Linked DNA regions of Homo sapiens: region 1 is linked to region 2. Evidence: fine-mapped expression QTL. A gene starts in region 2. The other region holds a variant in brackets. All regions are shown on one strand. Distances are from middle to middle.

Region 1 (15,982 bases), 21 kb before region 2:
CCAGCTCACCACCAAAGCACAAAAGATAAAAGTCTGCAACCACCCTAGTGACTTGACTGAATGGAGGAAGGGTGGCTGGGGTCCTGTACCCCAAGCTACTCACTAGTTATACAACCTGAGGCAAGCTCTTTGGCTGCCCCACCTGTAAGACGAGGACAATAGTACCTTAATTATAGGAATTGTCATAAAAGAAGTATAAGATGGGTGTATGAGGTCCCTGCATGGCGCAGGTGCTATAGGCAGATTGTAGGGTAGTAGATTTTCTAGTCTGCAGTTATGTAGACAGAGCCAGAGAAGCAGCTCTGGGGAGGAATTTCAAAGGAACTTGCCCACGGTCATTCTACAAAGCTGCAGTACCTTCCCAACTCTGAAACGTATGCTCTCATCACCCCGTCTTAACAAACATTTGGACATTAGAGAAAACAAGTCTTTTCTTAAAATAACATTATTTATGGGAGAAAATCCACAAAAATATAGCATCCCAGGACAAACAGGGCTTAAGATGCAAGATTTTCTATTTTACTGCAAGACACAAAGACTCTGAAATTAATGCATGCCCTATCTTCTGCTCTGGCATACATTTTAGTCTCCTGGGGGGATCAGTAAGTGTGGAAGTAGCAAGGGAGAAACAGAAAAAAGTCAAAGTAAAGAGACAGATTTTAGAATGTTAATCTGCAGGAGCCTGCCAGAAAGATCTAGCTCATGGGCTATCTGTACATCCAGGACTGAAGCACGGGACACGGGGCAGGTCGTCCAGGGTTCTGTCCACCTTATCTTGTTACCTCTCTTGACTCTTAGAGCCTCCACTCCACATCTCCCATCAATGTCTGCAGAAGACGTGGCCTCCACTAACACAAGTCTTACTGAACTGATGGGACAGGAAATTAGAATATCCTCTGAACCATTCCCATGTTCTTTGGTTCGAATTCCAGCAGCTAGAAAAGGCAGATGCTATTCTGATCACTCTCCTGCGTGGCTCCAATGAGGATTAATGAGTAACATCAGAGAGAGAAGTGATTATAATAAGGTCTGACGGTGCACCCGATGTCTTCATCCTTTTCTCTTCGCCTCCTTCCTCATCATCTCACACCTTTTTTTTTTTAATTGACTGATTGGTTCAACAAATACATGTGGTACCTCAGGCTCTGTGCCAAGTGCCGGGATTCGTAGAGAAGAGATTCAGTGCCTGCTCTCAAGGGGCTCATTCTCTTGTGGGAGAGACAGACAAAGAAACCCAAGATTTCTGGAGTGTGGGAATGGTCTTCCAGGCAGATGCTAGCACAGCACATTGAAAGGCACGGAACCTCAACAAAACAATAACATTTAGGAACCAGCTAGAGCACAGGGTGGTGAAGAAAGTGGAAAGATTTGAGGCCAGCGTCGCCATCTAAGTGAGGGCATTAAGAATTCAGCCCACATCAATCAATCATGTCCTATTGATTTCACCCCTTAATATCTCTCCTATCTATCCGTGGCCACTGCTCTATGCAGACACTCATCATCTCTCACAGAGGCATCATCTGCTTCCAAGCCATCGCCATTCTCCTGCAAGAGTTTATTTCCATGGTTCCCACTGGATGGCTTCACTTAACTGCTCAAAACCCTTCTGAGGTCCAGTCAACTGGCTGGTAAGGACCAGTCCAGGGTCTGGGGATGCCAGCCATGAGACATTGCTTTGAGGGGAAGAGGGAGCATAGAACTGGATCTCCTGCATCCTACTGCCCAAGTACCAATGCTGGAGGTGGTTTTCCTTCCCATCATCAGCAAGTCTGGATATCCAGGATCCACCCTATGGATGTTTTTATGGACAGAGTGGGAAGATGGATATGTTTAGGTTAGGGAAAGAGGGTTTGCCAAAGAGGGCAGTATAAGTGAGCTGCACTCCATCATTCCCCTGGCACAAACAATGGCTAGTATCCTCTAGTCCTCAAGAGCACCACCTTCCAATGCAGTCCCTGCCTGTCCACAGACCTCTCTCCTCAAACTTCCTCTGAACAACCTCAGCGAGGGCAATTGCCACTCTCTGGGCAGAGTCCAGATATTCTCTCCTACCCTCTGACATCACTTTCTAAATTTGTATATGTAGATAAACTCTGAGCCATTCACATAAAGGGCTTTGATTTCGGATACGCCAAACACATAAACAAACAAACATAAGCTTTCCTTTCACAATGGGCTCATGTAAATTAAAATGTTTGGTTTTCCACCTACGGTCTTGAAAGGGGTTTCTACAGCCTGTTTTGGAAGTCAGAAAGCAAAAGGTAAATGCAAACATCATTTCACCTGCAGAGAAAATTCTAATCCTCTTGAGGCAGTGCCAAAAATAATACAAGCACACTGCTATCGAGCCAATTACTGGTATCTCTGAGCTTCCGTCTCCTCATCTATAAAATTGGAATCGAGCTGTATGGATTAAAGATAATGTATGAAAACTGCCCAATTAGTACACTATTAATAAATAGCAGCTACTGTTGTTAACAAATATTATTGACTTACTGGAAAACAAAGAGGAAATAAAGTCACATTTAGGGAGAATTTCAAAGTGTTCCTAACCTAAAAAAGAAATAAATTAGGGGGAAAACCACTAAGTAATGGGTGAGCTCAGTTTACCTTGCTTAAGAAGTCCCACCCTAGAGAACTGATCTCTAGATGACACCCAAATGCACTCAGTACAACCCCCCAAGACTGTCTGGGCTTAAGGCAGGGGCTTGGATTGTCCTGTAAGCTGTGGGAAGTCTGTTCATGAGCCACAGTAGACAGGAAGGGGATGGAGTCTTAGAGCTGGCTCTTCAGGGTATCTCCTAGTGTGTTCAAAGCAGTTCTCAGGAGGGTGGGGAACTACTACATAGCCAAGTAAATATGAGGCCTCCTTGCTCTGGGGAGACCTTTCTCTTTAACAGAGGTGAATCTGAAAGGATACCCAAAGAGGCACTGGAGGGTGGGGGCCACTCTGGCCCCTCAGAGCAGCCAGCTCAGCTTCAGTGGATGCTAGAGGCAGCAGAGGATCAGCCTGGATCAGCCTCCCTTTCACCATGCAGAAAACAGAGCTCCCCCACCAGACCAGATACTGGAAGCACTGGGCCAGGCCTAAGAGAAAGCAGAGCCCCAAGCCCCACCACACCAGGGCTTATGAGGCTACTGCTACCCACCCTCCCAAGCCCCAGCTCCACTTCTATGTTCATCAAGCAACTGTTTACTGGTAACTGCACTTCCCGATAGACTTTGCTAGAAAGGAATGCCTCAGTGCACTGACAATATCTAAACCTGCAACTCTAAGGACTAGGCTGGGGAACACTGTGTCAACATGGAGGCACGTCCTACCCCTGAGAAGAAAAATAAGGAATATCAATAATACCTGCTGGGCACTGAGCACTGACTATGTATCTGATTCGAAGCGCTTTTTGCTTAATCTGTCACTGAATCTCACGATAGGTGTTGTTATTAGCATCTATTATCTGGGCCAACTGAGGCCTAGAGGGACGAAGCAACTCCCCCAACATCACCAGGTAGCAGTGTCAGGACTGGGATAGAAACCTGATGCTCTGACTGAAACTAATGCTTTTTTTTTTTTTTTTTTTTTTTTTTTTGAGACAGCATCTCACTCTGTCACCAAGGCTGGAGTGAAATGGTGTGATCTCAGTTCACTGCAGCCTCCACTTCCCAGGTTCAAGTGATTCTCCTGCCTCAGCCTCCCGAGTAGCTGGGATTACAGGCGTGCACCACCATGCCCAGCTAATTTTTTTGCATTTTTTGTAGAGATGGGGTTTCGCCATGTTGGCCAGACTGGTCTCAAACTCCTGGGCTCAAGTGTTCTGCCTGCCTTGGCCCCACAAAGTGCTAGGATTACAGGCGTGAGCCACCATGCCCAGCCAGCTGATGCTCTTAATCTGTGCCCTACCCAGCCTTCCTGGGAGGCTTCCCAAGAGCTACACAGAGCATGAGTTCTGGAATCGGGTTGATGGGGGTACCAGTTATTACTAATAGGAATGAAGATGGGTAATTCTTTCAGACAGCACCCTTGATTAAAACAAGAGAGTAGTGCTGCCTCTCTGTGATTCTGTGTCTCCCTGCCCTGCTCACACAGACACCACACCCACCCACACGCATGATCATGAAAAGAGGAAATGGATCCAGGAGAAGGAGACGACTCCTGAGTGAAAACAACGGGGTTTTTCACATTGAGAGCTTTGCCCAACACCCCAAAGATGAAAAGAGCAGGAAACTGCTGGGGCCGATTGAACACTGGACTTTTGTTGTGGAAAAAGGCAAAGGGAAGCCGGAAGAGACTGGAACAGTTTCCATGGTGCTGGAGGATGGGGAAGTGGGTAGGGATTAGCTGGAGGGAGAAGGAGAAGCTGGGGTGGAGGGGAACCTCCACTTGCCAGGAGAGCACATGTAGGATGGGAACCCCAGATGATACTCAAGGCATGGCATTAGACCAGAAGCAAGTCTGTGGTGAAATTAGGGAAGGCTCCACTGCGGACTGTAGACAGAGCACTGGACAAGGAAGTGGGAGACCCAGGGTCCAGTCCTGGCTCTGGAGCCCCCTGGGTGGGCTGCCCCGGGCACCTTTCTCTCTTGGGGCCTCCATTCCTACCTCTGTGAAGCGAGTGCTGAACCTCTCTTAGCCCTGACTTGCTGAAATGCTGGGACTCTGTACAGAGGCTGACATTAAGCAGGGATCTGTCGTGGGGTGCTGCAATGTTCCTCCAGATGCTGCACGGGAGAGGGCAGAAAAGGCCTATATGGTGAGTCCGCCCTGGGAGCCTCTGCTTGGAAGCTGAAGTGGCCTGAGAGTGACTCAGAAACCACGGAAGTTCCCGGGGCTGATGGGTTCTTATAGATTGTACATGCAGCTCTCCTCGTGGGCTGCAAAACCGCAAGATGGGCTGTGACCACTCTCAAGGAAAGAGCCCTATCTGCAAAAAGCATTCTGCCCTCCAGGTCTTAAAGCAAACACAGACTCAATCCTTATTCCTTTTAAGACAAAATTGCCTCAGGGGCATCAGGGAGGCAGCAGGCCTCAAATGTGTGCCTTTCTAGAATTCTCAATGAAAGCACCCTTTTGGGTATTAATAATGACAACAGTAATGACAGTCATTTACTGAGTGCTGCTTTTGGGACAGGCATTGGGCTAAGAGCTATATGTAATATATATTATTATTTGATGCCCACAGCCACCCCATAAGGAGGCGGAGGTACTATCATTATGCCAACTTTAAAGATGAAGAAACTGAGGCCTCAAGAGATGAAGTAACTTGGCCAAGTCACTCAGCCAGTAAATGGGAAGAGATAGACTTCCCAGTATCCAGAGCCCATGTTTTCACCATTATGCTGAAGTACCTCTTTTCCTGTGCCAATGTGATCTGCCTCCAGGAATCCTGTCTTGATGTTCCCTTCCCCATACAGAAGTCCTCTCTGTGTCCTCTTCAGCCTGATAGTATATCTTTTCATACCATTCTTTGGACATCTCTGTTATACTACTCCAATGGTGTTCCCTCCCCTACCCCTCCCTGGGAGCTTAGTTGTTGTGATTAAGTATAGGGGAAATGACCCACACTAAACAAACTCATAAGAGACTGATTGATAAACCTGAAATGCAATTTATTAATTAACACTGAGAAATGAAACCACCCAGCAGATGGGAATCCTAAGGCTGACTGGTCAGCACAATCTCTTTCAGGAAGGACAGGCTTTTGGGAAAGGAAATCAATACCAGAAGGTTCTTTGTTGAGTACAAAGTCAGAGGGAAGGGAGTTGATGGATTGACACATAGGTGAAGCTTGACATACCTCTATAAAGCCTCCATCCTGCCAAGGATCAGAATATCCAAGGCAGGGAGCCATCTGGGTGTCCTCTCCTTTGGACAGTGCTGGATTTTTCTGGATCCTATGAAGATCTTACCTTTCTGGCTGCATTTATCATGATTGTGGAAGGCTTTTTGTTTCCTTGTTTGCTTAGATTAATTTCTGCGTATTTAATAGAACTGAAAGGCAATTTCCCATTGAGACCCACTGAAGAGGAATAATCAATACATACTAGTTGTGTTGCCCTTTGCAGAGAATTCACTTCTGTGTTGTCACTGTATCCTCATGCTTCCTTATAATGGAGGGACAGAGATGGTAAAAACATGGACTTGGAAGCCAGACCGTCTGGGTTTGAATCCTGGCTCTGTTACTTATAAGCTCTGCAACCTCGGGCAGATTACCTAAGTCAGTTTCCCCTTCTCTGAATTGGGGATAATAATAGCACCCACCTCAACATCTGTCAAGAGGATTCAATGAGGGAATACACATAAAGTGCTCAGAACAGTGTCTGCCATCTGGTAAGCAGTCAATACTTGTTAGCGATGATTAATAATTCATTTCATAGATGAAAAAACTGAAGCCTAGAGAGATAAAAAGTCAACTAAGATCATACAGCCAGTAAGTGGTGAAGATATCATTGAAAATCAAACTGGCATCCTTTAAGCACTAAAGTCTTTCCACAGACTAGTTTCTTACCCATTCGCTTTCATAACAAGCTGAAGGAGAGCTTGTTTAAAAATCAGGTATATCCACCCACCGGAATGGGTAAAATTTAAAAGAATGAAAATATCAAGGTGGAGCTTGGACGCAGAACAACTGGAGGGAGTAAGCAGTAAGAACCACTTTGGAAAAGTGTCTGGCAGTTTCGAAATAAGTTAAACAA[A/T]CACTTAATGAATCAGCCAAGTTCAACCAGGGATGTGGAACCACTCTCTCTGTGGATTGCTACAGGGATTTGGCCTTACTCAATTGTAGGAGGTAGTTAAGCAATCTTGTAAGGCTATTATCTTTGCATGTCATGTTGCAGTTGAATTCCACAGGTCAGGCAACTGGGAAAGGAAGATGGATATAAAGTGGGCAAGACAGAGCAAACTGAGCCCCATAAGTATGAACTGGAACCCCATGAGGATGAACTGAAGCCTTTAAATCCACATCAGCTTTTGTTGTCTCTGTCGTTGTTAATGTATTTTGCAGAAGCCCGGGTTCATTGCATGGAGCTAACCACATACACACCTGCCCCAACAGTAGGCAACGCCAAAGGAGAAGCCAGCTCCATGCCAACCAGGTGTACCAGCAGTTCAGTCACAACATGTGTGAGCCAGAAACCGACTCCTGCTTCCCTTCCACCCTCCAGATTCCCTGAAGAGACACCCTCATGTTCCGCTCTAACCAGAAATACACAAAAAAGGGAATTCAACATAACCAAGTCAGCACATTACAAAGCCAACACACCTACCTTATGATCAGGTAATTCCACCCAAGATATTTACATAAGCGAAATGAGTGCATACGCTCACCAGAAGTAGTGTACAAGAATATCCATAGCAACTTTATTCATAACAGCCAGAACCTGGTAACAGCCCAAATGCCCACCGATAGGAATACGGATAAGCAAATTGTCCCGTAGTCACACGACGGAATACTGCATCACAACAAAAAGAACCAACCTTTCATACACACAGTGTAGATTAATTTCGCAGATGTGATATTGAGCAAAATAAACCAGATGCCAAAAAGTACACAATGTATATATATTTTTTCTTTTTCCTTTTTTTTTTTGAGACAGAGTCTTACTCTGTCGCCCAGGCTGGAGTGCAATGGTGCGATCTCGGCTCACTGCAAGCTCTGCCTCCCGGGTTCACACCATTCTCTTGCCTCAGCCTCCCAAGTAACTGGGACTACAAGAGCCCGCCACCATGCCTGGCTAATTTTTTTTTCTTTCTTTTTTTGTATTTTTAGTAGAGACAGGGTTTCACCGTGTTAGCCAGGATGGTCTCCATCTCCTGACCTCGTGATCCGCCCGCCTTGGCCTCCCAAAGTGCTGGGATTACAGGCTTGAGCCACCGCGCCCGGCCATATTTTTTCTTTTTTGAGGCAGAATCTCACTCTGTCACCTAGGCTGCAGTGCAGTGGTGCAATCACGGCTCACTTCAGCCTCAACCTCCCAGGCTCAAGAGATTCTCCTCTCTCAGCGTCTCAAATAGCTAAGACTACAGGCACGCACCACCATGACCAGCTAATTTATTTTTTTTGTAGAGTCGGGGGTCTCACTATGTTGTCCAGAGTAGTCTCCAACTCCTGGGCTCAAGTGATACTCCCGTCTCGGCCTCCCAAAGTGCTGAGATTACAGGCATGAGTCATCATGCCTGACAATGTATATCTGTGTGAAGCTCAAGAATGGGCAAAACTAATTGATAGAAAAGTTAGAATAGTGGTTAATTACCACCGGAGCAGGAGAGGTGTGGGTCTGTTACCTCTGCTGAGGAGGGGTATGATGGAGTCTGAGTTCCTGGAATGTGTCTTGATATAGGTGGTAGTTATATAGCTGTATAGATGTGTAAAATTTCACTGGGCTGTACGCTTAAGGTCTGTGCCTGTAACAGTATGTATGACATACTTTAATTTTTTTTTTTTTTTTTTTGAGACAGAGTCTCCCTCTGTTGCCCAGGCTGGAGTGCAGTGGCACAATCTTGGCTTACTGCAACCTCTGCCTCCCAGGTTCAAGCAATTCTTCTGACTCAGCCTTCCGAATAGCTGGGACTACAGGTGTCTGCCACCATGCCTGGCTAATTTTTGTATTGTTAGTAGAGACGGGGTTTCACCATGTGGCCAGGCTGGTCTCAAACTCCTGACCTCGTGATCCTCCCACCTCGGCCTCCCAAAGTGCTGGGATTACAGGCATGAGCCACCGCGCCCAGCCCCGATATACTTTAATTTTAAAATGGATTTTAGATTCCTGAGCTCTACCCACAGAGATAACTGATGGTCCGGGTGCAGTTCAGGGGTGACTATTGGGAGAGCTCTGAACTGTGCCTTCTTTCTTCCCAAGTTTGCTCCCCATTCTGTATGGTCAGTCATTCTTGAATTCACCCTAAAACCAAATTTTTCAAGGATGGAGAACAGCCAACTTTAATCTTACTTCTCTGGGATTTGAAAAAGCAAATTCCTGTTCATAAAGGTACCCACAGTGTGGGACGTCATCAAACAGAGCTTCTTCCTAATAACGGCGGCGGTGTTGTAAGGTGTGTTAACAATCTCAGAACTTGAACCGCTCTTGGTTTTAAGATGCCAAGTAGCTTAATGGTTTCCTATCACTAGGAATTGGAGCATCTCTGTTTTCATAATACTTCCCCACATCCCAAACACCACTCACTTGCCCTCTCCTAGTGTGAACAGAACCCAGCCCAGGCCTGGAACTGCTGTCTCCATTTTGAGAGGCTGAATCTTGTAAGGACTGGGGGTCCTGACTCCCTAAGTGGAACAGTGTCCTCCCTGGGGGAAAACTTATGAAGATCATAAGAGTCCTAGACACAAACGGCCCAAGCTTCCACAAAATGCACATTATCCCCTTTCCTCTCATTTAAAACACAGATGTGGCCGAGCGCAGTGGCTCACACCTATAATACCAGCACTTTGGGAGGCCGAGGCTAGCAGATCACTTGAGGTCAGGATTTCAAGACAAGCCTGGCCAACACTGTGAAACCCTGTCTCTACTAAAATTGCAAAAATCAGCTGGGTGTGGTGGTGTACACCTGTAATCCCAGCTACTCGGGAGGCTGAGGCAGGAGAATCACTTGAACCCAGGAGGCGGAGATTGCAGTGAACTGAGACCGCGCCACTGCACTCCAGCCTGGGCGACAGAGCAAGACTCTGCCAAAAAAAAAAAAAATTAAATTCAAAATAAAATAAAAGAAAACACAGATGTGCCTATGGAGGAAAGGGCACTAATATGAACTCAAGACCCTGCTGGCTCCTCCCTATACCCCTCCCGGAGCCTCAGTTTCCATTCTTCATAGCTGAACATGGGCTGTGGGATGCTGATTCCTGTTGGAAAGAAAGGGAAGGGACAGAATAATCACTCCTATTTACACGGCTCTCTAGAGTTTGCAAAGCAAAGCACTTCCACATCCCCTCCCTGAGCCCCCCCCAACTCCATTGCCACCCCCACGCTCCAGCCCCCGCAAGCCTGAAGTCATGTAGGAAGCGTCCTTTAGGCTGGGCTTGGCCTTGCTTTTCGTTTGGTTTCGGAGTCCCCGGTGAGAAGCAGATACCTCCAAGGAGTAACTAGTCAGGTATCATCCCACACCTGGTAAGTATTTGGGATCAGGGGAAGTGATACCTAAGAGGCAGCACAGAGAAATTAAGTGATTAGGCACACGCCTAGCGCCAGAGCAGGTGAGTGGCGCAGGGATGGGGAGTGATACCCAGACTCCATGTTGCAGTCAGAGGCCCAAGGCTTTTGGAAGAGCAGACCCAGGTTAATTATGTGCAATCTCATAGTGCCATTAGTTGACAAGTCAGAGACAGAGCCTTTCTTTCTTCTACCAAAGCCAGGCAGCTAGGGCAGCCAGAACACCTGGGCTGCAGCAAGAAGGAAGCCTTCCTGTATGCTCCACCCTCAACCGTGGAGCAGCTGGACAGGCCTCCCTACACTGCAGCTTGGGCTGGTTGTGGCTGGACTTGTCTAACCCTCTAACTTGTGCACCTCAAAGTCAGGGCTCCTCAATATTTTCTCTACCCCTGACAGGGTCCACCATTAAGCCATATTAAGGGACAAAGGAGAGACCTGAAGTCAAATCTGAAAATTTCAGATAAAGCAAGCCACCCAACAAAGAGGTCCAAAGTACATGATGGGATTGGAGAAATGCTGACAAGCGAAACTCGGAGAAGCCAAGCTGGCAGATTGATCTGGAAAGGTCAACAGGAACGAACGGCTATAATGAGGCTCAGTCTGTACATCACCAAGCCAATGGATTGGGTCCAGCGAGGATGCAAGATGTATTGAGTGTGGTGTGCCTCTTCTGCACACACCTGCGGCTCCCTGGGATTCGGGATGGGGAGGGACTGAGAGCTGTGACAAACCAGGTCAGGCCACAGACTCTGGATTTAGGACAATCAAAAAGTACACATACCTGGGGGAAGTGTCCAGGGAGGCTGGAAACTGACCCTGAGGCAAGACTGGAGGTGTCTAGGCCCACTGCTGCGGGCACTGGCTTGACAGTGCTTTTGAGAAAAACACAAAGTCTACACTGTTTGTCGTTTGTTTTTGTTTTTGTTTTGAGAGGTAGTCTGGCTCTGTTGCCAAGAGGCCAGAGTGCAGTGGCCCAATTTCAGCTCGCTGCAACCTCCGCCTCCTGGGTTCATGTGATTCTCCTGCCTCAGCCTCCCGAATAGCTGGGATTACAGGCATGCACCACCACGCCTGGCTAATTTTTGTATTTTGTAGAGACGAGGTTTCACCATGTTGGCCAGGCTAGTCTCAAACTCATGACCTCAAGTGATCCGCCACCTTGGCCTCCCAAAGTGCTGGGATTACAGGCGTGAGCCACCACACTCGTCCCACACTGTTTTTTGTCCTGGCCCTGACTCACTTGTCCTGATTTCTCAAGAGAGGGACTTTCAGAAAATGAAAAAAAAGAGAACTTTACTAAAGATCTTCAGTATTGGTCAGAAGAGAACCCATCCTCTCTCAGCAAGGATGGGAGACGGCGAAGAGATACGCTTCATGGGAGAGGGACAGCAGAGCATCAGCAGGAAGGGGAGCGACAATGTCCCCAAGACCACAGACACCTGTCAGGTGTGTTTGGGAGGGCCTGGCCCCCACCAAGTCTACAGAGTTGAGGCTTGCTGGTCGAAGTCATGATCTTTGTCCAAGCCTTGGATGGTCACCCTTTCTCCATAAACCTCCGTCCCACACTGAAACACTCCCTGTGTGTCTTTGAACAAGTCCTTCCTCCTCTGAGCCCCATCTCAACCAAAAAAGAGAAATGAACTTGCACTGAGCTCCCTCCCAGGGCTCCATGAACATCTCATGAGATTCGAACCCCTAGCTCTGGGCTATCACAGCCCCATCCTTTATGCATTCCATCGTCATCGTAGGATGTAAGCCCGAGAGCCCTGGCACTAAATGAGAGCTACTCACTGAGAACAGCTTGGTGCTGAGACCCTGGGGCATGCAGAGGGCCAGGAAGTGGCCAAGGCAGGGCAGAGCCACTTGTTTTCCCTGAGATGGTCTGCCTGGGCCCTAGCATTTCCATGACTGTCGTATCAATGCTGAGATCCCAGAGGTCCTGGGAGGAGCCATTGTTCTCCCTTTACTAAAGTGACCTGAAACCTTGGACAGGCTGCCAGTGCTCCCTGGCCTTTTAATTTTTTTTTAATTGTTATTATTATTATTTTTTTTTTGAGATGGAGTCTCGCTGTCTCCCAGGCTGGAGTGCAGTGGTGCGATCTCAGCTCACTGCACCCTCTGCCCCCCGGGTTCAAGACATTCTCATGCCTCAGCCTCCCGAGTAGCTGGAATTACAGATGTGAGCCACCATGCCCAGTTAATTTTTGTATCGGGTTTCACCATATTGGCCAGGCTGGTCTCAAACTCCCAATCACAGGTGATCCACCCACCTCAGCCTCCAAAAGTGCTGGGATTACAGGAGTGAGCCACCGCACACAGCCTATTCATTCAGTTTTGAGACAGGATCTCGCTTTGTCTCCTAGGTTGGAGTACAGTGGCACAATCATGGCGCACTGCAGCGTCCACCTCCTAGGCTCAAGCAATCCTTACCCCAGCCTCTTGAGTAGCTGAGACTGCAGATGCATACCACCACACCCAGCTAATTTTTAAAAGCTTTTTACAGGGATGGAGTCTTGCTATGTTGCTCAGGCTGGTCTCAAACTCCTGAGCTCTACCGATTTTCCCCCATCAGCCTCTCAAAGCCCTGGGATTACAAGTGTGAGCCACCACACCCAGCCTTCCTCAGCCTTTCTGCTCCTCACTGCCCTGTAGCAGAGTCCACTGGGTCCTCAGTGCCCAGCTGAGCTTGTGCAGGAAGCCCCAGCTCTGGGTCTTACTGCCTCACCCCTAACCAACTCCTACCATACTTCAGGGCATGGCTCAAATGTCACTTCCCAAAGGACATTGTTCCTGATCACCAGACTGGCACAAGTACTCTCCCGTGGCCCATACTTCTTCATCATAGAATTTATCCCTGCTTATAATTACATGTTTGTGTTTGGCTTACTTGATTTCTGAGCTTTCCCCCCATCATGCACGTACATAAACACACACATACACATAGACACTGTTAAAACAAATGAAAACCGAGGTCAGGCCTGCAGATCCCTTAAGCAAACAAAACTAGTCAGGCTTCATAAGTGACCTAAACCTTGCTTAACTTGAAAACATAAGTGGCCTGGGCCTATCTTCCACTTCCACACTAGAAGGTTTTCAGGCTCACACCTGTAATCCCAGCCCTTTGGGAGGCCAAAGCAGGAGAATTGATTGAGCCCAGGAGTTTGAGACAAACCTGAGCAACATAGAAAGACCCCCCCTCTACAAAAAATAAAAGATAAAAAATAATTAGCTGAGCATGGTGGCTCACACCTGTAGTCTCAGTTACTGGGAAGGCTGAGGCAGGAGGGTCCCTTGAGCCCAGGAGTTGGAGGCTGCAGTGAGCTATGGTTGTGCCATTGCACTCCAGCCTTGATGACAGAGTGAGAATCTGTCTCTTAAAAAAAAAAAAATTAAACAACCAAAAAAACGTAATGGCTGGGCATGGTGGCTCATGCCTGTAATCCCAGCATGTTGGGAGGCCAAGGCGGGCAGATCACCTGAGGTCAGGAGTTCGAGACCAGCCTAGCCAACATGGCAAAACCCCATCTCTTAATAAAAATACAAAAAAATTAGCCAGGCGTGGTGGTGCGTGCCTGTAGTCCTAACTACTCAGGAGGCTAAGGCCGGAGAATCGATTGAACCGGGGAGGTAGATGTCGCAGTGTGCCGAGATTGCGCCACTGCACTCCAGCCTGGGTGACAAAGCAAGACCCTGTATCAAAAGAAAAAAAAATTTGAGCTATTTCTTGTAAATGTTTATACATGTGTTGCTTAACAACAGGAATGCACTCAGAGAAATGTGTCATTAGGTGATTTTATCTTTATGCAAACATGATAGAGTGTACAAACTAGACAGTATAGACGACTACACACGTAGGCAACATGGTATAGCCTAGGCTACAAACCCATACATAGTACTGTACTGATTACTGTAGGCAGTTGTAACACAATGGTAAGCATTTGTGTAGCTAATCATAGAAAAGGTGCAGTAAAAATATAGTATAAAATATTAAAAAATGGTTCACCTATATAGGGCACTTATCATGCATGCAGCTTGCAGGACTGGCAGTTGCTCTGGGTGAGTGAGTGAGTGAGTAGTAAGTGAATGTGAAGGTCTAGGACATTGCTGTACACTACTGGAGGCTTTATAAACACTGTATACTGGCTGGGCATGGTGGCTCATGCCTGCAATCCCAGCACTTTGGGAGGCCGAGGTGGGTGGATCACCTGAGGTCAGGAATTCTAGACCAGCCTGGCCAACATGGTTCTCTTTAGTTGAGAACCCTGTCTCTACTAAAAATACAAAAATTAGCCGAGTGTGGTGGTGCATGCCTGTAATCCCAGCTACTCAGGAGGCTGAGGCAGGAGAATCTCTTGAACCTGGGAGGTGGAGGTTGCATTTAGCCCAGATTGCACCATTGCACTCCAGCCTGGGTCAAAGAGCAAAATTCCATTTCAAAAAAAAAATGCAAAGAAACTAGCCATGCATGGTGGCGGGTGCCTATAATCCCAGCTACTTGGGAGGCTGAGGCAGGAGAATCGCTTGAACCCAGGAGACAGAGCTTGCCGTGAGCCAAGATCATGCCATTGCACTCCAGCCTGGGCAACAAGAGTGAAACTCCATTTCAAAAAAATAAAAAATAAATAAAATAAAAACAATGTACACTTAGACTACACTAAGTTTATACAAAGATATTTTTCTTTGTTCGATAAAAAAATTAACCCTAGCTTACTTAGCTTTTTTACTTTATAAACTTTTAAATTTTTAAAAACTTTTGACTGTTTTGTAATAACACTTGGCTTGAAATACAAACATTGAACAGCTACACAAAAATATTTTCTTTCTTTATATCCTTATTCTTTAAGATTTTTTTTTCTTTTGAGACAGGGTTTCACTCTGTCACCCAAGCTGGAGTGCAGTGGCACAATCACTGCTCACTGCAGCCTCAACCACCTGGGGTCAAGTGATCCTCCCACCTCAGCCCCTCGATTAGCTGGAACTATAGCCGCATGCCACCACACCCGGCTAATTTTTGTATTTTTTGTAGAGATGGGGTTTCACCATGTTGCCCAGGCTGGTCTTGAACTCCTGAGCTCAAGCAATCCACCCACCTTGGCCTCCCCGAATGGTGGGATTACAGGTGTGAGCCATTGTTCCTGGGCAGCTTTTTTCTATTTAAAAATTTTTGTATTTTATTTTAACTTTTTAAACTTTCTTGTTAAAAGCAAAGACACAAACACACACATTAGCCTAGGCCTACACTGGGTCCTATCATCAATATCACTGTCTTCCACTTCCACACTAGAAGGTTTTCAGGGACAATAATATGCACGGAGCTGTCATCTCCTATGATAACAATGTCTTCTGGAATATCTGTTGAAGGACCTGCCCGAGGCTGTTTGACAGTTAGCTTTTTTTTATAAGTATAAGGCGTACACTCTAAAATAATTATAAATAGGCCATGCGTGGTGGCTCACGCCTGTAATCCCAGCACTTTGGGAAGCCGAGGCGGGGTGATCACTTGAGGTCAGTAGTTCAAGACCAGCCTGGCCAACATGGTGAAACCCCATCTCTACTAAAAATACAAAACATATTAGCAGGGTGTCATGGTGCACACCTGTAATCCCAGCTACTCAGGAGACTGAGGCAGGAGAATCACTTGAACCCAGGAAGCGGAGGTTGCGGTGAGCCAAGATCGCGCCACTGCACTCCAGCCTGGGTGACAGAATGAGACTCTGTCTCAAAAATAAAATAAAGATAAATAATATAGTAAATATATAAACCAGTAATATAGTTATGTATTATCATTATCAGATATTATGTACTATATATAACTGTATGTGCTATT
Region 2 (13,668 bases):
TAGCGAGACTCTGTCTCCACAAAAAATAAAAATAAAAACGAATTAGCCAGGCGTGGTGATGCATGCTTATAGTCCCAGCTACTTGGGAGGCTGATGCAGGAGGATTGCTTGAGCCCAGGAGTTTGAGGCTGCAGTGAGCCTACGACTGCACCACTGCACTCTCCAGCCTAGGCAACAGAGGAAGACCATGTTTCTAAAAGAAATAAATTAAATAAAATAAATAAAAATAAAAAGACTGAAAAGCAGAGTGGTAAGAGAAAGGACTTTGGGGCTCAACAGTACTAGCCTTGAACCCTGGCTGTTACTTACCCATCGTGTGATAAGCAAATGCCTTAACCCCTGTGTGCCTCACTTTCTTAACATATAAAATAGAAGTAAAAATCATACCCACTTCAAGGGTCATTATAAAAAGCCAATAGAGATAATGTATATAAAGCTTCTGGAATAATGCCTGGCACACAGTAGGAGTTTAATAACTGGAAATTCATTGTTGTAGTGGGCAGCCTTCTGAATCTGTGTCCTCTTTGTCCACTAATGGCTTTGATCTGGATTTGGCTCAGGCAAGACCTGGGGAAGGGCAGAGACTGAGGGCAACTGGAGGTATAGGGTGGTCTGAGCTTCCCCAGCAGAGTGAGGCTGGGAAAGGTCTGGGAGACAGACCAGGCAGGTGCTGATAAGACCGGAATGGGAGGCTGGAGCATAAGGCAGTTCAGTTTTTCCCAAAGGGGGGTGTACAAAACGATCTCGTATGACTCCTTTATACTGTTAATGTTTTCATTTTATCGCGCACTGAAAAACAAAACCAACATATTTAATGAATGATTCCAAGGGGATTCTTGCTTTTACAAAAAATGCTAAAGTAGGCATTCACATGTTTAAAAATTGAGTTGATTTAAATTTTAAAATTACTAAGTCATAGTACATAATGTGTGAGCCACAGCTATCCCCAAAATCATGATAGCGATACATTAATGACTGAAGTTCTTTAAACATCAACATACAATGCCAATTCCAGAATTCAGCTCAAATTCTGCAATTACACAGGCTGGGGTTGAAACCCAGCTTTTTTGCTAACTGTGTAAAATTAGGCAGGAGGGCTAACCTCGCTGAATCTCAGATGTCTAGTCTGTAAATTGAAGATAATGTTTGTTTTTATCTCACAGAGTTGTTGTGAAGATTCAATAAAATCACAACATGTGAGGATGATCTGGCTGTGACACCTGTCACCCCACTGATCTCCAGAGTTGATTCGGCTGATCAGGCTGGCTGGGCAGGTGTCCCCTTTCTCCCTCACCACTCCGCATGCATTCCTCCCGAAACTGCACACTTGGTCAAAGAGGAAGACCTTTCCTGATAGAGGAGGACCATTCTTCAGTCAAGGGTATATGAGCACCTGTTCTGTCCTGCCAGAATCTCCGAAGGAGCTCTCAGTAAAATCACAAGATTTTATTGTGCATGGTAGCATGAGCCTGTAATCCCAGCTACTCAGGAGGCCGAGCTAGGAGGACTGCTTGAGCCCAGGAGTTTGAGACCAGCCTGCGCAACATAGTGAGACCCTGTCTCAAAAAAAAGAAAGAAAGAAAGAAAAGAATAATAATAGTAATAAATCACCTGTGCAACGTGCTCACTTCTCTCTTTGGAATGTAGTAAGTGTACCTAATAAATGTGATCATTGTAATCATCACAGTGAGCACAGGCTAAAGCATCTTGACTTTATTCTATAAGCAATAAAAGAGGATTTGTTTTTACAGAACTCATTATGTTGTGAAAATAATTTTCCAACATTAACAAAGAACATTCTTCAAGTAAAAGGAAAACCACCCATCATTCTCCCAACCTTCAATAATTTTCAATTTTGCATATTCTCCAGACTTTGTCAACATGAATACTTACTTTACATGGTCGCAATCAGTGTTCATGCAAATTCTTTTATCCTGACTTTTATAAACAAATATGATGTTATAAACCGGTCTCCATGTTTCTGCATATTCTTTATAATTATCATTTTGTGGCTGCATAATATTGCATTGACTATGTTAACTGCAGTTTTCTTAACCATTTCACTGTCTGGGGAAATGGAGGATAATGCCAGGGTCATGCCTGGAGCTTTTTTTTGTCTATTGCATTATATTCTTAAGATCAAATCCCAGCAGTGAGATTAGTCAGTCAAAAAGTAATAATATTTTCAAGGCTCTTGTTATATTTTACTAGATTGTTTTCCAGAGTTTTGCACACTGCTCCCAGAGATGTAGGAACACAGACGTCATCCAACCTTGCCAGTGCTGGGTGATGGTGTTTATAAACTTCTGCTAATTTAATAAGTATGAAATGCTATCCTCACACGGCTTTCATTTCTATCTCTTTGATCATTAACAGGTTGAACTATTTTCCAAGTATTTGTTTACTCTCTGCATACCCTCTTGGGTGAAGTAGTCATCCACTTCCTTCACCTGTTTATCTGTTGAAGTCTTGAGGCTTGTTTTATAAATGTGAGCGAGCACTTCAGAGTCAATAGACATTAATTGCTTCCAGCCAGATTTGGCCACTGAGGCTCCTGAGCAGGGGAATGCATGATCAAAACTACACCCTGGACAGATTAAATTAATTGGAGAAAATGGGCTGAGAGGCAGAGATATGTGTCACTGGCCTACTGTGTTTGATCCTATAGTGGGGGCCTGAACTGGGGCAACGGCCTGAGTCCCCCACTACCAGTAGCAGGAGGCTCCATGTGTCCCCCATATTAGAGCTTGCGGCACTTCCATTTGCCCCACCTCCTACAATACCCCACATACATGTACTCACTCTCCCTTGCAAATCTAGTGGCTTCAACCCACAGAATTTAAGGGGAAAGGAATTGTTCTGTCCTGTTCACTTACTGCAGAAATGAGAAAAGCGTTGTTCACATGGGATCACCTAATGAAGGGATGCCATCCCCAACGGTGCCTATAAGGAAATGGGGGAGGGTTGGAGAGTTGTGCAAAATGCAACAGGGAATCATCAGAGTCTCTTGCCCCATGATAGAGGGTTCTCAAATTAAGAGAGTCTACAGCAACTAATCTCACGGCCACTCTAGGCAGGGCTTCCCAATGCTTCCCCAACCCCACCTCCATCCTAGACTTTACCCACTCTGCTGAACACAGATGTTACCCATAGCACCTTGCACCATGATTGTTTGATTAGCACCTCCCACAGTAGACTGTGTTTCTGATAGGTCAGCAACATTTGCTGAGCACCTACTCTGCAGGGCTGTGCCAGGTGCACAAAATAAACAAAGCCAAAGACAACATGGACCCTGAACTCAGCAAGTTCAGAGTCAAGTGGGATAGGGAGGCTCTCTTCACTGGAAGGTAACTCCAAGAAACAATGGGACTCAACTTTCTAACCAAGAGAACTCCAGGGAGCTAAAATTCTGACTTCTGGTTAAGACTGGTGTGGAGCTTCATTAAAGAAGAAAAGATTCACCCAGACTTGAGTTCATAGCCTGGCTTTGCAGCTTTTAAGTCATGTAACCTTTGATGAAGTTATGTGACCTCTCCACCCAGCTGCCCCTAACACTTGCAGGGGCAGGGCTGGAGTGCAAAGGGAGGCACTGGTACCACAGCCTGGGAGGCACCACCCCACTAGTGCAAGCCGGGCAACCTCTGCCCCCAAGGCATCCCTAGCCTCCCAACTGCAAGCATCAATCTTGCACTTGGAAAGGAACCTCACCTTTGAAATCTAGGTTCAAATTTAGAATGATCCAGCTCCTTGAAGTTCTATACAGAAATACAGCCAGCAGCCAGGCCCGGTGGCTCACGCCTGTAATCCCAGCACTTTGGGAGGCTGAGGTGGGTGGATCACTTGAGGACAGAAGTTCGAGACCAGCCTGACCAACATGGTGAAACCCCGTTTCTACTAAAAATACAAAATTAGCCAGGCATGGTGGTACACGCCTGTAATCCCAGCTACTTGGGAGGCTGAGGCAGGAGAATTGCTTGAACCCAGGAGGCAGAGGTTGAAGTGAGCCAAGATCGTGCCATTGCACTCCAGCCTGGGCAACAAGAGCGAAACTCCATCTCAAAAAAAAACAAAACACACGCAGCTTCCCTCCACTTCCCAACCACAGCTCCATCTCAGACAACAAGGGGCCTCATGTCCATGCACATGAATATCCAACCAACATGTCTAAGGCCCAACCACACCCTCTCCAAACATCTGCCCCTTGGCCACCCTTTGGCCATGGGTTCATGCACTGGCAGAAAGGTAGTTCAGAGAAGAAGCCCACAAAGGGCCGGGAAGTCCACTTGGGCTTTTTGAGATTCCAGGGTCCAGGATAACCTAAGTGTGGTCTAGAAGAGAGATGCAGCTTCTGGGAGGCACATTCCTTGGTCTTAGGGACTTCTTGCCCCCATGGAGGGAAACTGGCTAGATGAGGGCCAAAGCAGAGCCCTCTAAAGCACAGGGCTCAGGGAAGGACTCTTTTTGACCAGATCTAAGAGCAGCACTACCTCTCTGAGCCTGTTTCTCCATCTGTAAGAAGGGGACATTAATAGACTCTCCCCGCTAGAGTTACTCTACATCAGCCAGCACACGTAAGTTCATGACATGAAGCAAGGGCTTAATATATACCCGTTGTACTATAAATAATAGGCCAGGCCTGGTGGCTCACACTTGTAACCCCAGCACTTTGGGAGGCCGAGGAGGATGGATCACAAGGTCAGGAGTTTGAGATCAGCCTGGTGAAACCTCATCTCTACCAAAAATACAAAAATTGGCCGGGTGTGGTGGCGTGCACCTGTAGTCCCAGCTACTTGGGAGGCTGAGGCAGGAGAATTGCTTGAACCCGGGAGGCAGAGTTTGCAGTGAGCCAAGATCTCACCATTGCATTCCAGCCTGGGTGACAGAGCAAGACTGCATCTCAAAATAAATAAATACACACATACATACATACATACATACATACATACATACATACATACATACAATACATGGACAGGGACCCTAAAAATGAGACAGGGAAAGAGAAAAACATGTTCTGACAACCTTGCCCTTTATACTAATTTAGGTTTTCTTGCCTGTTTTAGAAAGGGCCTGGACAGGAGCCCTGTTCCCCTCAGGCCAGGCAGAACAAGGTGTGGAACTCACTGTGGAAGGGTTCTGGGTGACAAGTGCAGCCCCGTCCCTCCACCTCCCAGCACAGTAGGCAGCACGTGTCTCCATTGACTGGCTCAGGAGCAGGCCTGGTGACCAGTGGGAGAGCTGAGGAGCCCAGGGTGGGGTCTGAAGGAATCCCTAGAAAATCTGATTTTCCCCCAGGGCCCACATCACGTGCCCAGAGCTGGGAAAGTGGAGGCAGCATGGGATCTAGCTGAGAGGCTCCATTTTTGGTAGCTTCTAGTTTGGGAGTCACAGAGACACCTGGATGATACGAAGATGTAGCTTTGCAGGACTCTCTAGAACATGGAGTCCAAGATATTCCCTTCAATGATGGGACACTGAAGCCCACAGAGGAGAGGTCTGTCCCAGTTACTCAGCCATTCGGAGGCAGAGACCAGGCTAGAACTCAGGACTTTTAATTTGGACCAGGATTCCTTTTACCACAGTGGGCAGCCCTAGCAAGTGCCAGGTAGGGTGGAACTGTGAAGGTCATCCGAGGGGTAGTACACGTGGGTAGGAAGTCATATCTAAGAACTGACCCCCAGACCTGGCTCTGCCACTCACTCCTTATGAGACCACAGGTGCTGGGTGCAGTGGTTCACACCTGCAATCCCAGCACTTTGGGAGGCCAAGGCAGGCAGATTGCTTGATTCCAGGAGTTCGAGACCAGCCTGGGAAACATAGTGAGACCCCCACCTCTACCAAAATTAGCCAGGCGTGGTGGTGTCTGCCTGTAGTCCCAGCTACTTGGGAGGCTGAGGTGGGAGGACTGCTTGAGCCTGGGAGGCGGAGGTTGCGGTGAGCCAGGATCATGCCACTGCACACCAGCCTGGATGACAGAGTGAGACAGAATGACACACTGTCTCAAAATAAATAAATAAATGACAGCAGATCATCATTTTTCTTTCTGCCTCTAGACTGCAATGCCTATTTCTCCAGGTAGTCACTAGGATAAAAGTAAAAATAATATTATCAGCATTTACCAAATACAGGGTCAGCTACTCTGTTATGTTCTTTCATGCTTTGTTTCTTTTAAGCCTCAAACAACTCTATGAGCTGGGAACAAGTATCGTCCTTCTTCCTCCCATCTTATTTATTTATTTATCTATGTATTTATCTATCTATTCATTTATTTATTTATTTTGAGACAAGGTCCTTCTAAGTCACCAGGGATGGCCTCAAACTTGAGCTAGGAACTAGTGTCACCACCCCCCAATTTCTTTTATTGATTGATTGATTGATTGACTGACTGGTTAATTTTGAGGCAGGGGTCTCGCTAAGTCGACAGGGCTGGTCTTGAACTCCTAGTCTTAAGCAATCCGCCCGCCTCAGCCTCCCAAATTGCTGGGATTACCAACACGAGCCACCATGCCCAGCCCCTCCCATCTTCTGAATAGGAAAACTGGGGTTTGAAAAGGTAAGCGACTTGCCCAAGGTCCCCTCCCTAGCTAGAGAGCTTCAGAGCCAGGGCACAAACCCATCAAAGCCTGTGCTCTCGCCCATTGAGCCACCGGACCTCGTACACTAACCGCCAAGTGTTCTACACAGTGAAGGTGACAAAGAGGTGAAGGGAAGAGCCAGGGAGGTTCTGTGGACTCACTCGGTGGGTATGCCCAGAGGGAAGGGGGATCTTGGGTGGCACATTGAGAGTAGCTGCGCTGTTAGTAAGTGAGAACTCGGAAGTCCAGACTCATCCAGTCTGTGCCAATAAACCCCTCCTTCTACCTGGTCTCCTTTCCAAAGCCAGCTGTTCTCCAGACAATGGGGTGGGCGGGGGCGGGTGTCCTCCTCCTTCTCAGGGAAAATCCGACGCTGAGCCCATCTCCAGAGATCTTGGCTTCCCGTGGGGCTGCAGATCCACCTAGAGCCACCAGAGGGCGGGCCAGCACTGCGGCCAAGGCTTGAAGACCCAGCACACCAAAGCCCGGCCAAGCCTCCAGCCCAGTGTCCAAGAGTCCAGCCAGAGGCCGAGTCCTCGATCTCAAAATGTCTAACTGCAGAAGCCCAACTCATGTTCAGGCATGATGTGTCTGATTCTACTGGGACAATCATTGCCACCAAAGAATTACTGCCAAAATAGTAACGACATTAGCTACCTACCACCCCTCCACACACCAACACACCTCATTTTACCAAGCACTTTCTCATGCCTGGGGTGCCTGGAGACTTAATGCAGCCTCGCGATGACCGGGTAGCCTCACCGTACAGATGAGGAAACTGAGGCACAAGGAAGGGGAGTACATTGTCTAGGGTCACCTGGAGAACTCTGATCTCCAGACTCAAATTTCCAATTCGTCCCCCCTCCCCCCAACCCTAACCGGAGCTAGGTGGGGTGGGGACAGCAAATGTGGATGGGGGGAGGTAAGAGGGGTCAGAGTGCTCTACAGAGAAGACCAAATGCATTGTGGCACCTACTGTAAAATGAGACCAGCCAGCCACCCACCCACCAGCCAGCCACCTAAAAGTCTTCAGTGGGCACCTGCTGGAAACACGACAATGGATGACACGAGTTCCCTGCCCTCAAAAAGCTGGTAGTCTAGTTGGGGGTGGAGGGGGTGAGTCAGCAGATAATTATGGGAAACCGTGACACCTGTATAAGGGGCGGGGATGAGCAGAGGGGCTGCGACTGCCTGGAGCCAGGGATTCCCGGACGGGGCTTCCCTTTCCTCGCAGCTCGTCCCAGGAGGAGGAGCTCCCCCCCAGCTTCGGGGTTCCGCCTGCCTTGGGGGCCCGGGGTCCCCTCCCACCCCTCCCCGAAGAGCGCGGGCCCCGGGAACCGATGACAGCACACCTGAGTCAGCCCGCCGCCCACCCGCCCCTCAGCGTCTGTCTCCGCATCTTGTGATATTTCGCTCCCCGGGAGCCAGCCCCACTGCGCTCCGGAGGCAGCTCGGCAAACAAACCCAGCGACAGATTGTGCCGCGGCTCATTCCGGGGAAGGACGCCAAACCCCACCCTGCTACCCCCAACACTCCCTCCCCGCCGCCGCCTCCAGGCCCTCCCCCCAGGCGCAGGCCCTAGTCGGGGTGGGTCCTGGGGAAACGCAGGGTCCTGTCCTGCCTCCTGGAAATAGGGGGAGCCCTGGGTGAGGGAAGACGGGAGCCCCAGAGACTTTTCTTTCTGTTTCTACCTGATCCGAAAACGAGAGGGGCGGGAAAGGAAATTTAGGGGCACAGAGAGGAGCTGGGGGGCCGAGAAGGTCCGAAAATGGAACCAGCAGGGGGCACCCGAGAGCCGAGGTGCCCACGGGCCGGGAGCCTGGGAATGAAACTGGGGAAGAGGGGGAGAGAAAGGGAGGCAGAGACACCGAGACACACAGAGACGAGAGACAGAGACGCAGGGAGCCCCGCGGGGAGGAGGAGAGAGACGAAGACACAGAGAGACAGTGAGAAAGACAGAAGACCGGGCAGGGAAACAGACGAGTAGAGACAGAAAAGGTCCGAGAGAGAGTGAGGGAGGGAGGGAACAGAGAGACAGAGACCACGAAATATGAGTAAGAGTCGGGGGAGAAAACCAGAGAAATCGAATGAGAACGCGAGAAGAACGAGAGACCGTGGAGGGAGCAGAGAATGAATGGGAAGAATAAGACCAACATTTATCAAGAGCCGACTGTATGCCAGGCACTGCATTGGACCCTGGCACGGATAGGAAAGGAGGAGCCGCGGCGCGGGCAGCGGGGCGAGGGGCTTCTGTGCTCGCGGGAGCGGCAGCCCAGGGGGCTCAGCAGCCCCGGCACCGCCGCACCTGAGGCTCCAGCAGCCCCAACCCCGCCAGCGCTGCCTGGCCACCGTACCCGAAGCGGCTCCCCCGAGGGCCCCGAGCCTATCCTACGCCGGGGCGGCTCCGCGGACGCGCCGGGCCGAGTCAAGACCTGGGTCAACCGCCCTGCAGCCTTTGTAGGGAAGTGCCTAGGTGATGGGTCTGCTGATACCGCCTGTGACCAGGCCATGAAGGGCCAGAGGGGCTCCAGTGAGACCATAATCCGCCCCTCTTTAAAAGGGGGTAGAGGAAGTTCACGCGAAGCCAACAGTCTTCTCCCCAGCTTTGGGTCCTCTCCTGCACCCCCGCGGGAGATAAGGTCTCCCCTCCCGGACACATCATACATACACAAAAAAACGCACACACTCGCACGCGCGCCCATCTCGCACCCGCTTGTAAATGCACTAAGGGGCATACACACACCGGGCACATATTTCTTTCCACCCATCCCCAAGATCGCAAGCGCAAAACCTCGCACAGCCTCACGTTTCCCACCAGCTCAGACATGCACGCTGGCGGACTTTCAGCGGCTCACCCGTGTGCACACTCACGTGCCCCCCCCCCCGCTTCCCCAAGCCCGTACAAAGGGTAACGGGCAAGCATCCTGAGTCACACCTGCACAAGCATCCTTGCGCGCACGTGCACGCTCATATGCACTCGATCTTGCACGCACAAACTCTTGCATATACTATTCTTATAGTCGCACACTGGGCTTGAGGTCTGGGAGTGGAAGGAAAAGTGGAATCTTGGAGCTGTCCCAGGGGACAGAAATGCTGGAGGCTGGGACACTGGCGCGAGGGACGCGGCTGGGGGCGGGGGAGGGGGTGACCCAGAAGCTCATCTTCTCCTGGAAAGTTGGGAGGGGGGAACAGGACAAGTCCACGGCGTTCCTCTAAACTACCGCATTCCCCCAAGAAGGGATTTCTCTAGAAGAGTGGCGCCGCGAGGACGATCGAACACAGTCCTCCGGGTCGCTTAAGCGGGGGGGAGGGGGGCGGGGTGGAGGGGGTTAGAAAGCCGCTCCCGCCTCCTAGTGGTCGAGAAAGGGTTAAGTCGGCAAGCCAGCAAACGAGGGAGGAGCCAGCGAGTGCGGGAAGGAGTGGGGGTGGTTGGGAAGAGCTTCCTCGCTGTCCCCACTCTCCCTCGGCTAGCAGCCTGGGCACACGGACAGACGGACTGACGGACTCTCGAGCGGACAGCGCAGCTAGCGGGGCGCGGGCGCTGGGCGTCGACGGCCAGCCCCAGCCTTCCCCGCCCCGTCGCGCCCCGCCCCGTCCCGTCGGGGCCGATGGCTCCTCCCGAGGCCCGCAGCCCGGGCGGCGCAGGGTAGAGCGCCGCGGCCCGGCCACGCAGCCCGGGGACTCCCGGGCCCTCCCGGAGCCCCGCGGGGTCCCCGCCGTGCATCCGGCGGGCTCAGGGAGCGAGTGGGAGCGCCCTCCCCCCGCTGCCCCCTCCCCCGAGCATCGAGACAAGATGCTGCCCGGGCTCAGGCGCCTGCTGCAAGGTAAGAACGCCAGCGGCGGGAGAGCGGAGGGCATCCTGGGGAGAGAAGCAGGGCGTCCCCTCTTTCAGGGATTGAGGGTGGGGCAGTTGGGGAGGTGGGGTAACCTGGGGAAGGGGAAAAGCTCAGCGCTGGGGCCGCGCCCCCGCCGCCAGGGCTGTTCTCAGCAGGAGGGCACTTGGCTGGGAGCCCGCGGGCGCGTGCGAGGAGCTCGTGACCGAGGTGGGACGCAGGGGGCAGGTGGACCCGGCCCGGAGCGGGGAGGGAGGCTCAGGTTCCGCTGTCCCCGCTCCACCTGCTCCGGGGGACGCTGAGGACTCGGGCCGGCTGGGGAAGCGCCGACTCAGCAACTCCTCCTGCCCGGTGCCTCAGCACTTTCTGGCCACCTGGGAAGACAGGAGATGTGGGTAGGGGGCTGTCTGGGGAGGTAGGAGGCGCAGAGGGAAATCCAAGTGGCCCTCTCTGGTAGGAGAGATGGAGGGCGCTAGAAAGAGGATAGTTCTACTGATTGAGTGACAGATAAGGGTGTGGGCCAGAGACTGGGGGTGGGGTGGGGAGGGGTCAGGGGGAGAGGGATAGGAAGGAGAACTCAAAGATGGAGAAAGTGGTGAGGGAAGCTCAAAGGAGGAGGGAGATGGAGCGGGGGAGGGGGAGAAGGAATAAAGGTTAGATGGGAAAAGCGTGGAGGGAAGTGGGACCCAGGTGAAGACCAAGGAAGAGGGAAGGAGAGGAAAGACCAGATCAGGGGAGGGATGGGAAGAAGACTATGGACAGGGACCCAGAATCCTGGGATGGAGGTAGCGGGAAAGAGAATCAGGACTGGGACCCTGGGGACTGGAATGGAAAAGGAGAATGGAAAGATCAGAAACCAGAGAAGGATGGGGATGGTGACTAGAGAAGGGGTATCAGGAACCGGCGAAGAGGGTTGGAGACAGGGAACCATGGATGGGAGAGGGGCTGGAGAGGAGGGAAGAGGAGGAGGAAGAGAAAGGCTGAGAGAGAGGGACTGGGGATTGGGGGTGCTGCCCAGGGATGAGACAAAGAGGCTTCTGGTAACCACTTCCACGTGGGAAGCCCTCCATTCCCAAAGCGCCTGCCTGCCACATTTCTTCTCTCAGGGAGTGGCTGGTGGGCCAGATGGGGGGTGCTTTGAGCTCAGGGCCCTGGGGGTGGCTGTGAGGGACAGAGGGTGAGGACTTTGGAAGGGGAGTGACAGCCTCCGAGGGTGGGCAAACAGGCTGGCTCCTGTGCTGCCATTTATTTATCCGGCCTGGACGTTGGATTCTGCAGCCGCTGCCGCCACCACGGTGGCTGCTTATTTTGGGGTGTTACATTCTGGCAGAGTGAGAAGCTGTTTGCAGCAGCTCTAAACCTCCGTCACCCGCGTCAGTGCCTCCCCAGGCCCCTGCGTCACTGGCATCACCACCACCTCCATCCCACTCCTCAGCTCCCACCTCCTCAGCCCCTGCCCCCTCAGCATCTGCCCGCAGGCCCCAGCCCTTCCCTGAAGCAGCCCGTTGGGTGTGGAGCCCTTGCTTCTCGTCTGGGACCCTGTGCCCCTCCTTCCAGAGCGAGAGGCCTCTGCTGCCTTTCCAGGGAGCATCCTTTCCTGGGACCACTCTGCACCAGCGACTCTGCCCTGTGGGTGGGTAGCCTGGATCCTGCCCCCTACTTTGGGTCCAGTTTTCTTCTCCTCAAGTTCCTTCTTCTACAGGGGCCTCCGGCCCAAAGAGTGGCCTGTGGGCTGAGAACTTTGTTTCTGAGCCTTGGTACTCCAAGGTTTGATAGCCAGAGTCCTGGACAGTGGTCCCTCAGTGAACAGATACTTTTGGCTCTGGACACTTCAGCCTTCCGGGATCAATACCATGTTCTGGCCTCTCTTGGCTCCCTCCCCTGGTCAGTTCTGGCCATATATTCTGGACAGGGGTCATCTCTTCTTGACTCCCACATGTAATCACTACTCTAGAACAACCGCAACTGGAAGCCTAGGAGGTGAAAGTTGCAGAGAGAGCTGGAGTCCCTTCCTTGCCTTGACCCTGAATAGCCAAACAGACTCAGCATTGTGGCTGGCCCAGCCCTAGGCACCTGGGTGCAATTTCTCTCCTGTCTTTACCTCAAGGGCAGTGTCTCACACATTCAGGCGTGGTTTCTGCGGAGGATGTGGCCACCTCTTAAAGAAAGATCAGAGTGTCTCTCTGACATGGGCTTGATGTCCCTCTTTTCCAATCTGGGTTCCACCTTGTACTAGCTGCATGACCTGAGGCCACTGTGTCATGTTTCTGGGGCTCCCTTCCTTCATCTGCAAATTGGGGGCCACAATATTGACCTCCAGGGGATTATGTGTGTTGTGTTCAATGTATAAAGAAGTTAACCTGTACAAATGCAGTGCCTAGGACAAAATAGGTGCTTCTTGGTTTCCTCCTACCCTGCTGTACTCTCCCCTGCAGCTCTAGCCATCCCCTGCTGACTTTAGAGGAGGGGGTGAGCAGAGAGGGTGGGGGAGGCTGCTACAAAGGGCTTTCCTCTGTCCATGAAGTAGTGGAGGGATGAAATGAAGGCTTCTGAGAAAGACAATGAAGGCGAGCTGTAGAGACCTGGTCAGGAGGCCTGGGGTGCTCAGAAACTCACACTTCCCCTCCCCAGCCCTCAATGGTGTTACCTATGATGTGAGGGGTCGGCTCTAGGTGGCCACCGAGGTATCCCCCTTTCCAGCTCTGATACTCTGTGCATCTTGCCCCAGTCTCCACCGGGAATTCACAAAATGAAGGCCAGGAGTGGAGCCGTGGTCCTCGGGAGAGACAGGAGGCCTGGGCCTGGAGGGAAGGAGTGGTGGTGCTGAGGAGGAGTGAGAACAGGGGGTGGGGAAGGGACGTGGCAAGAAAGAAAAGGGCACACACTGGGCAGGGCAGGGACTGAGGGCGGGGGAGAGAGGGAAAGGCACAGCTCTCTAGTCCCCCAACCCCCCAGTCCCACCACCTCTGCCCTGGAGTGCTCGCTCCAGCCCCAGCAGGCCTGGGGCAGTGAAGCCCAGAGCCCCCTCCCCTCCCCTCCTCCTTGCCTCCAGTGAGAGCCGCTGCGTGAATTATGGATGAGCTCCTTGGGTTACAGCTGCTTTGCACGGCAGTGGCAAGGGCCAGAAATGGCAACAGAGTCACTGTTATGCAGCAGCTGTTATGGAGGAGCCCCCAGCACGGGGTCGCTCTTCAGAGAGCCTGCAGGGACCACTATCATGGGCTGGGGGAGGTGAGCCCTGGTTGGGGGAGACATGGGAA

Which allele goes with the higher level. Alleles are on the strand shown, and positions count from the first base shown. SD is a standard deviation of normalised expression in the study named.
As copies of A replace T in region 1, the expression in thyroid of the gene that starts at base 10,031 in region 2 goes up (moderate effect, 0.72 SD a copy in GTEx).

What was found. PIP is the estimated chance that this variant, and not a neighbour inherited with it, causes the effect.
Region 1: its variant is fine-mapped to the expression of RTN4RL2 in thyroid (GTEx, PIP above 0.99).

Annotation. Positions count from the first base shown.
Region 1 is chr11:57,428,097-57,444,078 of GRCh38, forward strand. No RefSeq gene overlaps it. Among named protein-coding and RNA genes, the nearest start is that of SLC43A3, 9.0 kb to the left of the region's middle. The variant A/T (reference allele first, on the strand shown) is at 6,691.
Region 2 is chr11:57,450,498-57,464,165 of GRCh38, forward strand. RTN4RL2 (reticulon 4 receptor like 2) reads left to right here and starts at 10,031. Exons shown (of 3, transcript NM_178570.3): 1 at 10,031-10,399. The coding sequence starts at 10,369. It also overlaps the pseudogene RN7SKP259. RefSeq lists silencers at 8,879-8,938, 10,038-10,307 and enhancers at 11,743-12,281, 13,371-13,668.